2 separate regions of the Homo sapiens genome follow, and region 1 is linked to region 2. The links come from fine-mapping of genetic effects on gene expression. A gene starts in region 2. The other region holds a variant in brackets. All regions are shown on one strand. Distances are from middle to middle.

Evidence for each region. PIP is the estimated chance that this variant, and not a neighbour inherited with it, causes the effect.
Region 1: its variant is fine-mapped to the expression of CACNA1A in blood mononuclear cells (TOPMed, PIP above 0.99).

Annotation. Positions count from the first base shown.
Region 1 is chr19:13,204,859-13,210,223 of GRCh38, forward strand. CACNA1A (calcium voltage-gated channel subunit alpha1 A) reads right to left here. Exons shown (of 47, transcript NM_001127222.2): 45 at 4,454-4,640; 46 at 3,898-4,151; 47 at 1,584-3,195. The coding sequence ends at 2,455. Among named protein-coding and RNA genes, the nearest start is that of IER2, 57 kb to the left of the region's middle. RefSeq lists enhancers at 3,382-3,651, 3,958-4,858 and silencers at 3,652-3,701, 3,782-3,971. The variant G/T (reference allele first, on the strand shown) is at 2,308.
Region 2 is chr19:13,503,189-13,508,553 of GRCh38, forward strand. CACNA1A (calcium voltage-gated channel subunit alpha1 A) reads right to left here and starts at 3,291. Exons shown (of 47, transcript NM_001127222.2): 1 at 2,744-3,291. The coding sequence starts at 3,036. RefSeq lists an enhancer at 4,333-4,859.

The sequences.
Region 1 (5,365 bases), 300 kb before region 2:
ACTGCAACCTCTGCCTCCCAGGTTCAAGCGATTTTCCTGCCTCAGCCTGCCAAGTATCTGGGAATATAGGCATGCACCACCACACCTGGCTAATTTTTTTATTTTTAGTAGAGACAGGGTTTCACTATGTTGGCCAGGCTGGTCTCAAACTCCTGACTTGGTGATCTGCTCACCTTGGCCTCCCAAAGTGCTGGGATTACAGGCGTGAGCCTCTGTACCCAGCCTTAAAAAAAACAAACTTTTTTTTTTAGAGACAGCGTCTTGCTATGTTGCCCAGGCTGGTCTTGAACTACTGGCCTCAAGTGATTCTCCCAAAGTGTTGAGATTACAAGAGTCAGACACCGCACTCGACCTCAAAACTTTGACTTCTCGTTGGACTGATCTTTTCCTAGATGCCATTATTTTATTTATTTATTTTTACTTTTAATTTTTTTAGAGATGGGATCTTTCTACGTCACCCAGGCTGGAATGCAATGGTTATTCACAGGTGTGATCATAGCTGGTCTTGACCTCGTGGGCTCAAGTGATCCTCCTGCCTCAGCCTCCTGAACAGCTGGGACTACAGGTGTGTGCCACCACATTTGGCTTACCATTATTTTAGAAGGACTTACACCTGTCTTGCTATCTGGAGTCTGCAGATTTCTTACCCAAGGTAAGCTCAAGCAGGGCCTGTTGTCTGGAACAAGACCTGTTCAAAATGTTTGCCTTAATGCTACAGTAGTAATGGTGATAGTCAATAGTAGCTTGCTATGGGTCAGGTACTGTTGTGAGAACAGAAGCTCTCAAAGGGGTATTGGACTCTGGGGATGGCTGAAACACTTCGTGGGGGCGGGGGTTGGTGTCCACGAGACCAAATTATTATTATTAATTATCTAAGATGGAGTCTTGCTCTGTCACCCAGGTTGGAGTGCAGTGGCACGATCTTGGTTCACTGCAACCTCCGCCTCCTGGGTTCAAGCAATTCTCCTGCCTCAGCTTCCCGAGTAGCTGGGATTACAGGCACCCACCACCACGCGTGGCTAATTTTTGTATTTGTAGTAAAGACGGCGTTTCACTATGTTGGCCAGGCTGGTTGTGAACTCCTGACCTCATGTGATCCACCCACCTCGGCCTCCCAAAGTGCTGGGATTATAGGCGTGAGCCACCGCGCCCTGCCTTTTTTTTTTTTATTTTGAGACAAGAGTCTCATTCCGTCACTCAGGCTGGAGTGCAGTGGTGGGATCTTGGCTCACTGCTAACCTCCGCCTCTCAGGCTCAGGTGATTCTCATGCCTCAGCCTCCGGAGTAGCTGGGATTACAGTTTGTGCAACCACGCATGGCTAATTTTTTTTGTATTTTTAGTAGAGATGAGGTTTTGCCATGTTGGTCGGGCTGGTCTCGAACTCCTGACCTCAAGTGATCCATCTGCCTTAGCCTCCCAAAGTGCTGGGATTACAGGCGTGCATGATGCCCGGCCTCCTTGTCGCTTTCAAACAGTGCTTCTAGGAGCTAACAAAGAAGTGCCTCTTTGTATGATTCCCCAAGAGAGACCCACCCAGGCAGCACCTAGCCAAGGGACAAAGACCACTCCTATCCAAAAGCCCTTTGATTCAACTTTTTTTTATTTTTTTTTTCTTTTTGAATGTCATGCAATAATTCACAGTCCCAAGCCCACGGTTTTCAAACAAGGTAGGAAAAAAGGAAAAAAGAAGCAAAGGAATCGGTGGTGATGGTGGGTTTTTCTTCTTCTTTTGTTGTTTCAAGCAGGACCAAATGTCAGAAAAAAATGCCTCTTTTCTCAATCATTAATTTTTTTGTCCTTTTTAAAATTGTTTATTGTTATTATTATTTTTTTAAATTGATTTCTGCAGGCAGTAATAGTAGGGTTTGGTATAACCGGCAAGCACTCTTGTGTGTGTCTGAGAACGTGTGTGGGTGTGAGTGTGTCTGGTGGTGGGTGTAGGGCACTGGGATTCTGGTTCCTTCTGGCTTCTTTGCCGCACTCGGCCACCAGCTGTCTTCATCAGGGAAAGGAAAGATTCAATTGAGATGATAAAACTCATCAATAGAAGCTATTTTTTTCTCCCCGTTTTTTCTTTTAAAAATGTTTTTTTTTTTTTTTTTTTTTTTTTTTTTCATGTTCCCCAAAGTTCTCCAAAAATGGCTGAGTTAATTCAAATCCCTTGGCTGTGTGGTTTGTCTGCTCCCTGCCTCCCACCCGAGAGCCCCTGTCGTGGGTGGGGGGATCGGGGCTGGTTGGGGGGCGCCGTGGCTGCCCAGGAGGGTCTCTTTTGGCCGAGGGTCTCTGCGGGACACCCTTGTGGCCCA[G/T]CCCTGGCCTCTCCAGAGTCTGGGGTCTCCCGGCTGGCCCTCTCCCGGGCCCTCTGTGCTGGGCCCCCGCGGCCTCTGCGCGGCTCCTCGGGTGGGGTGTGTGCGTGGGGTGCGTGGGGGGCCGGGCGGGCGCCACCTCGCCCGGGCTTAGCACCAATCATCGTCACTCTCGCTGTAGGGTTCGTGCAGGCCCTTCCTGGAGCCCGGCCCGCGGGGCCTGGCCAGTCCGTGCGCCGGGTAGTAGCCGTTGGGGAGTCGCCGGCCGTGCCGAGAAGGCGAGGCGCAGGCCGGGCCCGAGGCCCGGGGAGTCCTGGGCGAGCGCCCGGTGGCGCCCGAGGACGCGTGTCGTACGGGGGGTGGCGCGTCGTAGGCCCCGGCCATGGCCTCCTCGCCGCCCCCGCTGCCCGGGCCATCGGCCTCGTCGTAGTCGGAGCCCCGGTAGTAGCCATGGTGCCGGGGACCCGGGGGCCCCTCGGACACGTGCGGGCCAGATGCCGGCCACCGGGCCCCGCCGTGTCGACAGGCCCTGGGGGACTCGCTCCGGGCCGGGCCTGGGACCCGCCTCTCCATCCTGGGCGAGCGGCCGCTGCTGTGGCCCCCCGTGGGCGGCCGATCTCCGGCCAGAGGCTCGGCCGTGGGGCCTGGGTACCTCCGAGGGCCGCTGGTGGCCGCCCGGCCCGGCCTGGCCACCGCCTGCTGCTGCTGCTGCTGCTGCTGCTGCTGCTGCTGCTGCGGGGGCCCCGAGCCGCCGGCCTTACGGATCACAGGGGAATAGGACACGTGTGGCCGGGGGGTGGAGGGGGTCTGGGGGAGCTGGCGGCGGCCCCGCCGCGGAGTGCTGGTACCAGATGTTGAGGGGGCTGGGCTTCCACTTACGGAACTACTGCCCTACACGAAAATTGAAACAAAGGAAATCAAAAAAAAAGATACAACAAAATCAAAGGAGACACGGGATTGGGAGGAAGAGAGGGGAGCGAAGGGAGAGGGGCCGGGAGGAGAGGGAGGAGGGGGAGGGGGAGGAGGAGGAGGAGGAGGAGAGGGGGGACACAGGACATTGAATGGAAAAAAGCAACAGCCACAGGGAGGAGGGAGGGGAGGAGGGGGAGTGAGACAGGGAGGGGAGGAGTCGAAAACCAACACAACAAAGTGAAAAGAGAAATGAGAAATGGAGTTTTGTAAGTTTCGGGGTTAAAAATAGCAGAAGTTTCAAAAATTACTCACAGGCGTCCAGAGGACAGAAATCATAATTGAAACAAAAACAGAAGCCGGGTTAAAGGAAAGTGAAAGGTCGGGCGGCACGGCCCAGAACTCAAATATGATCCACAACCGAGGAGCAAGCAGCTGCGGGCGGCGGGGAGGGGGCGGCGGGTGGGCAAGGGGGCTGGGGGGACAGCATAGGCAGCTGGTGTGGTGGGGATCCGTGTCCGCTCCGGCCGCCGGGCACCCCGGTGGCTTGGGGGCAGGATGGGAGGTGGTCACAGCCGGGATCCGGGGACCTTTGCCTAGAGTGGCTGTTGGATGGGGTATCCCCTTCTCTCCTCCCCGCCTCCCGGCCGAGCCCAGCCTGGGGTCACTTGCAGCCGCACCCACCTGCCGGTGCGCCATGTGCTCTCGGCCCTCGCTGGGCGAGCGGGACCAGCGCTGGTCCCGAGCCCGTGCCCGGCCGTGGTCCGGCCGTTCCTGGGCATAGCGGTCCTTGTCGGGGGGCGGGGGATGGTGGTGGTGGTGGTGGTGGTGGTGGTGCTGTCGATGCTTCCGATCCTTGGGCCGGCCCCGCTCCTGGTCCCGCTCCTTCGACGGCAGGTCCCCGGATTGGGTGGTCATGCTCAGGTCTGTCCCCAAGCCTGGGCCGGGTGAGGGTCAGACAGACACACAGGTGGTCGTGAGGGAGAGGTGGGGCAGATGCACACACAGGAGGCCACCTGGAAGGTGTGGGGGCCCTAGAGATCCCCTGAACCGAGGCAGGTCAGTGGGTTGGGGGGAGGGGGTAGTACCCAGGTTCCTGCAGCTGCTGCCTGGCCCCCTCTGTCCCCTCTCCATGGAGGCCTCTCCCTTTCTTCTTCCTTAGTGTCTCCTCCGCCCTGCCTTCTCCTCCCCTCTCCTCTCCTCTGTTCTGCTTGTCCCTGAGCACCACAGGGCTGCCCACCTGTGTCCACATCGGTGTAGCGGCCCAGGGAGCGCTCAGAGGCGCGGTGGCTGCGGTCGCGGCGCCGCTGGTGGTGCCGCTGGTTCTCCTCGGGCGGGACCCGCTCCAGCGAGTAATCGTCCAGGCGTCGGGCCTTGGGGCCCAGCACGGAGGCTGAACGCTTCATGGGGCTGGTGTCTGAGATGGTCTGGGGGAGGGGACAGGCCGGTGGGCTGGGGTCAGCAGCTAGCACCAAGTGGTCCCGGTCCTTCCTGCCCCATTGTGGCAGCCTGGTGGTGGCCTTCGGTGACTGCGGTGTGACCATCCTGGGGCAGGGGCCAGGGGATGCCATGGGGCCTTGGCTCCCCCTGATCAATCAGGGCTCTGGGTGTGGCCAGGCCTCTGAGGGTGGAGCCTGAGGATTCCTCTGTCCCTCAGAGACAGGACTGCTCCTTTTGAGCCCATCCTGGGTTCTGACCAGAAAGATCTGATCCTCACTCTCCAGTCCTGGGGGCCCAGCCACAGTTGGGCAGGCTCAGGCTGGCCAGAGGGAAGCCCTCTCCACATCCAGGGTGCAAACCTGGGAGCCCTGGACTGCCGCACTCATCCCTGCCCCAGCTTGCTCTCCTGGGAGGGTGAGAAGCCTCCGACTGTGGCTGGCTGACCTATGGGCTCAGGACCAGGTGCCCGGCATGGCAGCTTTGGGTCCTCCCGGCTAACGGGGCTGTGCTCGCTGCCCCCACAAGTCTGAGTCCTTCTGGTGAGGCCCAAGCTAGGGAGCTCTGGGTGGGGGTGGGGGATACCCAGGCACTGGAGGCTCTGGGGGCCCACTCTTTTCCCTGGTGCTTCATCCCTGGGTCAAGCCCTGACACACAGGTTTCTCTGCAGCAGGCAGAGGAGGGAAGGAGGGAGATGGGGCAGACGCCCGCCTCC
Region 2 (5,365 bases):
TGGCAAAAGAACGTACTGTGTGACTCCATTTACATGTTTAAAAGAGGCAAAATGAACCTTAGAAGTCAGGTGAGCGGTACCCTTGTTGGGGGAGCAACTAGGAGGCGGTATGGGGAGGGGGACTTCCAGGGCACTGATCGGGACCTGGGTGCTGGATACGTGGGTGTGTTCATTTTGTAAAAATCTATGCATCTGAATATATGTACTTGCCTGTACATATATTAGACTTTATTTAAGTACCTACACACTTTTTTTTTCACTCTCAGGATATGCTGAAACATTTTTTTTTAATGGCAGAAATATTTAGATTAAAAAGTAGAATGTTCTGCCCTGGTATCGTGACTCTGACATTCCACGTGTCTTTCTCTTTACACTGGCCTGAATTCTTTTATTCACTACCTCCCTCCCCAGGTCTCTGTCCATCCCCTCTCATCTCCAACCCTCCCACCCACCCCGCCACCGCCCTCCGCTCCATCCAGGACAGAGAAAGCTCAGTCCTGGATGACCCAGCTCGATGACAGATTGTGAGGTGGGGAGTTTTCCCTTCCAGAGTAGGGCTGTATAATGTGTTTGTTACCTCGGGTCAAAGAGAACAAAAACAGTCTGCAGAGAGCATAATGCACAAACTCATCATAAGAGCAAGAAAGCCCCGGGCGAGCTGGCCAGAGAATAGATGAAGTGGCAAGCAACACTCGCAATTCACCTGCCTCCCTCTCCCACGATTCCCCCTTCCGAGGGGCCACTGCAATCCCCCTCTCCCCCAACAGCCCTCCAATCTGCAGGATTCAGGCTGGACAGAGGTAAGCTAAGGACACAGCAGAAGGGCTCCCCACCTCCTTCCTTTCCTCTTAGAAGTCTCCAAATCCAGGCTCCAGAAGGCGATCTAAAGCCATTTTCAATGAGGAAACCTGTCAGCCGAGCAAAGCCCTCTCACTCCTGGAGCTAACTGGGTGTGCACCCATGAATACCCTGTCCTCCTGCAAGGCACTCCCACTCCTCACTCTGTTGATAGGCAGAGTAATCAAGCCACCCCTGAGCACTTCAATGGGCCTGGGATGGTGAGGAATTGCTAACCTTAAGAACCAGCCTCTTTAAGAGTCTGAAACTTAGGAAGCAAAGACCTGGCACCTGCTTTGGGCACCAACGGAGATGGCATCGTAGTTAGAGGTATGCTCCCCTCAAAAGCACCTCTGCTGAACTTCTTAATTTTCCCCACCCTCAAAGTAGACCACTCACACACTCCAAAACCTCAGTGCCCTCTGTTGCAATCCCAGCACCCAGGATCCAAGCGCCAGGCTCGATTTTGAACCCCCCTGAAGTGAGTCCCTCTACCACCCGCCATGCTCCTCAAACAGCAACCCCCGGAGACCACACAGGGCCCAGCCCCGTTTAGTCTATAACTGCAAAACCACATACAAAAGGGATAGGGGACTCATCGCTGAGCCCCAGGGACCCATCCAGCCCGTTCATTTTTACACAGAGGGCAGCTGGTTGGAACTGTGCGGAGAAGCGGCACATCTGGGCATGGCACAGTGGCCAGCCAGCCTGGGCAGCAGGGTGTGTCCCCCCTCCTGGAATCTGGGTCATGCTTAGATAACTGCTAGAAAGCCCGACTAATTACCCACCCTTGCCTGCCTACATCTCGATAGATGTTAAGCCCTCCTCAAGGTTTATTTCAAGCAGGCAGGGATTTAAAGAAACACAGAAGATCTGCATTTTGATAGCATCTCCACAGAAGAAAATGTGGGCTTCACCTTTTTCCTCTGGATCTTTGATTAAAAAAAAAAAAATTTAAAAGGCATTTACCTACCTAAGATGTCCACATGGGTGCTGATTCTCCTGGTGTTCCCTCTCGGCTACTCGGGGTAGGAAAAGCTGGACATGGTGCTCTAAAATGGACCCACCACCTCATTTGCTGTTGCCCTGTCTTTCTTACTGAAAGTGTCCAGATCAGGTCTTCCCAGGCCAGGGGCCCAGATAAAGCAAGTGGGATCTCTTTCTCGACACCCCCAAAGATGATGAGGTTCCCCAATCAGCGGTTAAAGGCAATGGGACCTGCACACATGAGGGAAACATAAGCGCCCCCCAGCCCATCACTATCCTCTCCAGATAGGAACAGCGGCCCACCCTGGGGTACTCACTTCGGCCAGTGCTGGCTTCTCAGTGTGAAGGCCACATGGACTCCCTCTTGCTCTTAGCCCTGGGAGCCCCCAAGCGCCCTGCCCTAAAAGTGCGGCGGCCCCCCACCTTGGGGAAAGCAGTAGTGGAGAGGCTGTCCAGCTTCCCCTGCGTGGACTCCAGTGAGCGACGGCCAAGAAAACCCAACCAAGGCCCCCATAGTTCCCCTGCCCTGGCCAGAAGCGCCCAGGCCCGAGCCCGCTCCAAGCTCACTCCGTAGAACTCCAAACCCTCCGGACTTGGCTCGAAAGCCCCCACCAAGGCTCCTGCACGACCCCAGGCCCCAGATCTCATTCTAGAGTCGGTCCTTGGGAAGGATCCACTCTCCGCTGCCCACCCCCCAGCCCCCCACAAACCCATTCCCAAGCCTCCAGGGTAGCTCAACCCAGCTCGGGGTGGAGAGATTCTTTCACACTCCTCCCGGTGCCCCCTCTCCCAGCCCCTGGAAGACCCCCCTCCTCCCCACCTCCCATCAACCCCCGGGTCTCTCTCCCAGCCTGGAAGAGGGGAGGCGGAGGGAGGAGGGGGAGGCGCAGCTGCTGCTGGGGTTCGGGCAAAAGGATATGGCCATTCGGTGATCTTTTTGGCGTATTTTCTCACCACGTTGTCTTCGCTGAAGAGGAAGAGAGACCGGTTAACCGTGAGGCAGTTCTGTCGGACGGGGATGGGGTTGTAGAGTGCCATGGTCCGCGCTCTCTGCGCCATTGACTGCTTGTACATCCTTTGCGCCCCGGGCTGCCCGCCCTGCCGGCTGCCCCCGGCTCCTCGCCCGCCTCCGCTGCCCACGACCACCCCGGCGGCTGCCCCGGAGCCTCCTCCCCCGTAGCGGGCCGGCATCTCGTCTCCGAAGCGGGCCATTCTGCAAAGAGCAAAGGGCTCCGGGTTACGCTGCGGCGAACGATGCGGAAGACGCCGCCGCCGCCGCCGCCGCCGCTGATGCTGAGGCTGCCGGGGCTGGGAGCGCGGCGGCTGGAGCTACGACTGCGGAGACGCTCCACGGCCCAGCCCATCGGGCGGCGGCGGCTCGGCGCCTCGGGTCGGGGGCTCAGAAGGCGGCTGCCCGGGCCGAGCCGGGGATAGCAGCTCGGGACATCTTCCTGGCTGACCCCGGAGAAGGAGGGGCGGGAGGAGGGTGCGGGGGCGGGGCGCGGGGGCCCGGGGAGGAGGGGGGAGGGGAGAGAGAAGCGAGGCAAAAAATAACCGAGGAAGGAATCCAGGCAATCCCCAGTCCACCCACTCCGGAAAAAAAAAAAAAGAGACAGTTAAAAAAAAAAAATCCACCCAACGCACACCCCCTTTAAGACGCGAACGGTTTGCAAAGGACGCCCCCCCCGGGACGCAGTGGAAGCTTCAAATTCCTCCGAGGTCCGGGTCAGGCTGGCATCTTGCAAAAGGAGTGCGCTCGGCCCATTAAAAAAAAATAAAAAATAAAAAATAAAAAAATATATATATATTTAAAAATAAAGAAAGACGAAACCCAGGTCTGGGTGGGGAGGGCAAAAAAAAAAAAAAAAAAAATTAAGTGCCCTTCTGTTTTGCTGGAGTTCCTAGACCTTAAAAATGCTGAAAGATCTGTAGCTCCAAAAATAAAATAAAATAAAAACAAAGAAGATGAAAGGGAAGGGAAAGAGGAGGGAAGGGGAGTAAGACGCTCCAGAGGGTTCCTAAGGAGTCTTCACACCGCAGGGTCCAGGTTTAAAAAAAAAAAAAAAAATTTTTTTTCTTCCTGAATCACCAACGGCTGCCTCTTCTGCTCCCGGAGGAAGTGTGAGTGTGTATGTGCGCACAGCGTTTCGCTCAATGGTGCCTCATCTTGGGGTTAAATTGCAGCAGTGAAATCCTGAAAATTCCCAACAGGGGGAAAAGAGAGAGAGAGAGAGGTATGCGCCCTCCGCTTAGCCACTCAATAGCTGCCCCTGGATGCGGCAATGCCTCTCCACCCTCCAAATCCCTCCACCTCCTCCTTCTCTAGGTTTTGCTAAAATAAGACTGGTGTGGAGGGTTGCGGGTAGAAGAAGGTAAAGAGGAAAAAAAAATGGGCGCAAAGGTCTGAACCACTGGCCAGCAAACGGAAAAGGGGAGCAATTGATGAGTTTAACAGTAGAAGGACCCACCCAGAGTGTCGACACATGAGGGCCCGCGACCAATCGTGGAGGCTCGTGGAGGCGCGGGGGTACCGGGCTCAGCGGAGTTTGTGGGGGAGAGAGGGGAGCGTCGCATGGTTGGGAGGCAGGGAGGGGGGAATTGGGGTGCTTCCTCCTCCCCTGGGAGGAAAGCCTGTTTTCCACCCCGTTCCATTTCGGTTGCAGACAGCCGGACGCTCCCCAGCATCTTGCAAGGAGAAGGCAGGATGGAGGCAGGAAAAAAACTTAAAAGACAGAAAAGAGAAGGGGATTTGTGTCTAGAGGTGCGATTCGTCAGTCTCTAAACAAATTTGCTCTGTTTAGCAAAAGACCATTTTTGAAAGTGGAGAGAGTGGTTTGGGGTTACTTCTGTGAACGTTTCAAATCACAAGGACTCCTGCAAGTTGGAATTAAAGGTTTATTCTACCTTGGAGACCCCAGAGGTGACAAGTCTGAACTCCCAGGAGGAAATAATTAACCAGGTCCTAGTTGGCTGGATAGGGGTTCTGGGTGGTATAGTTTGCTTGATACTCACGTCTCTCCAGAACCACTTTGATTACTTCCCATTCTGCTTTTTGTGTGGTGAAATTCAATAAGCACAAAGAAAAATGCATAAAACATAAAGGTACGGAGTTAAGAAATTGGTCTGAAATGAACACTCATGAAATCAAGTCTAGGGCTAGAAATGGAACATCACCACCTCTGCAGAACCCCCTTTGCCAACACGCTTACACAGCCCCTTATTCCAGCAATAATCGCTACCTGACTTTATGGTATTCATATCTTGCTTTTTTAAAAAAAGTTTGACTACCTTATTATGCGTTCCTAACCAATACAATTTTACTTTGCTTCTTTTGGGCTTTTATATAAATGGAATAATCATATAGTATATATTCTACAGTTTCTTGTTTCTTCGGTTCAACATTATGTCTTTAAGATTCATCTGGCAGGGCACGGTGTCTGCGCCTGTAATCCCAGCACTTTGGGAGGCAGAGCATGAGGATTGCTTGAGGCCAGGGGTTTGAGACAAGCCTGGGCAATATAGCAAGACCCTGTCTCTCCAA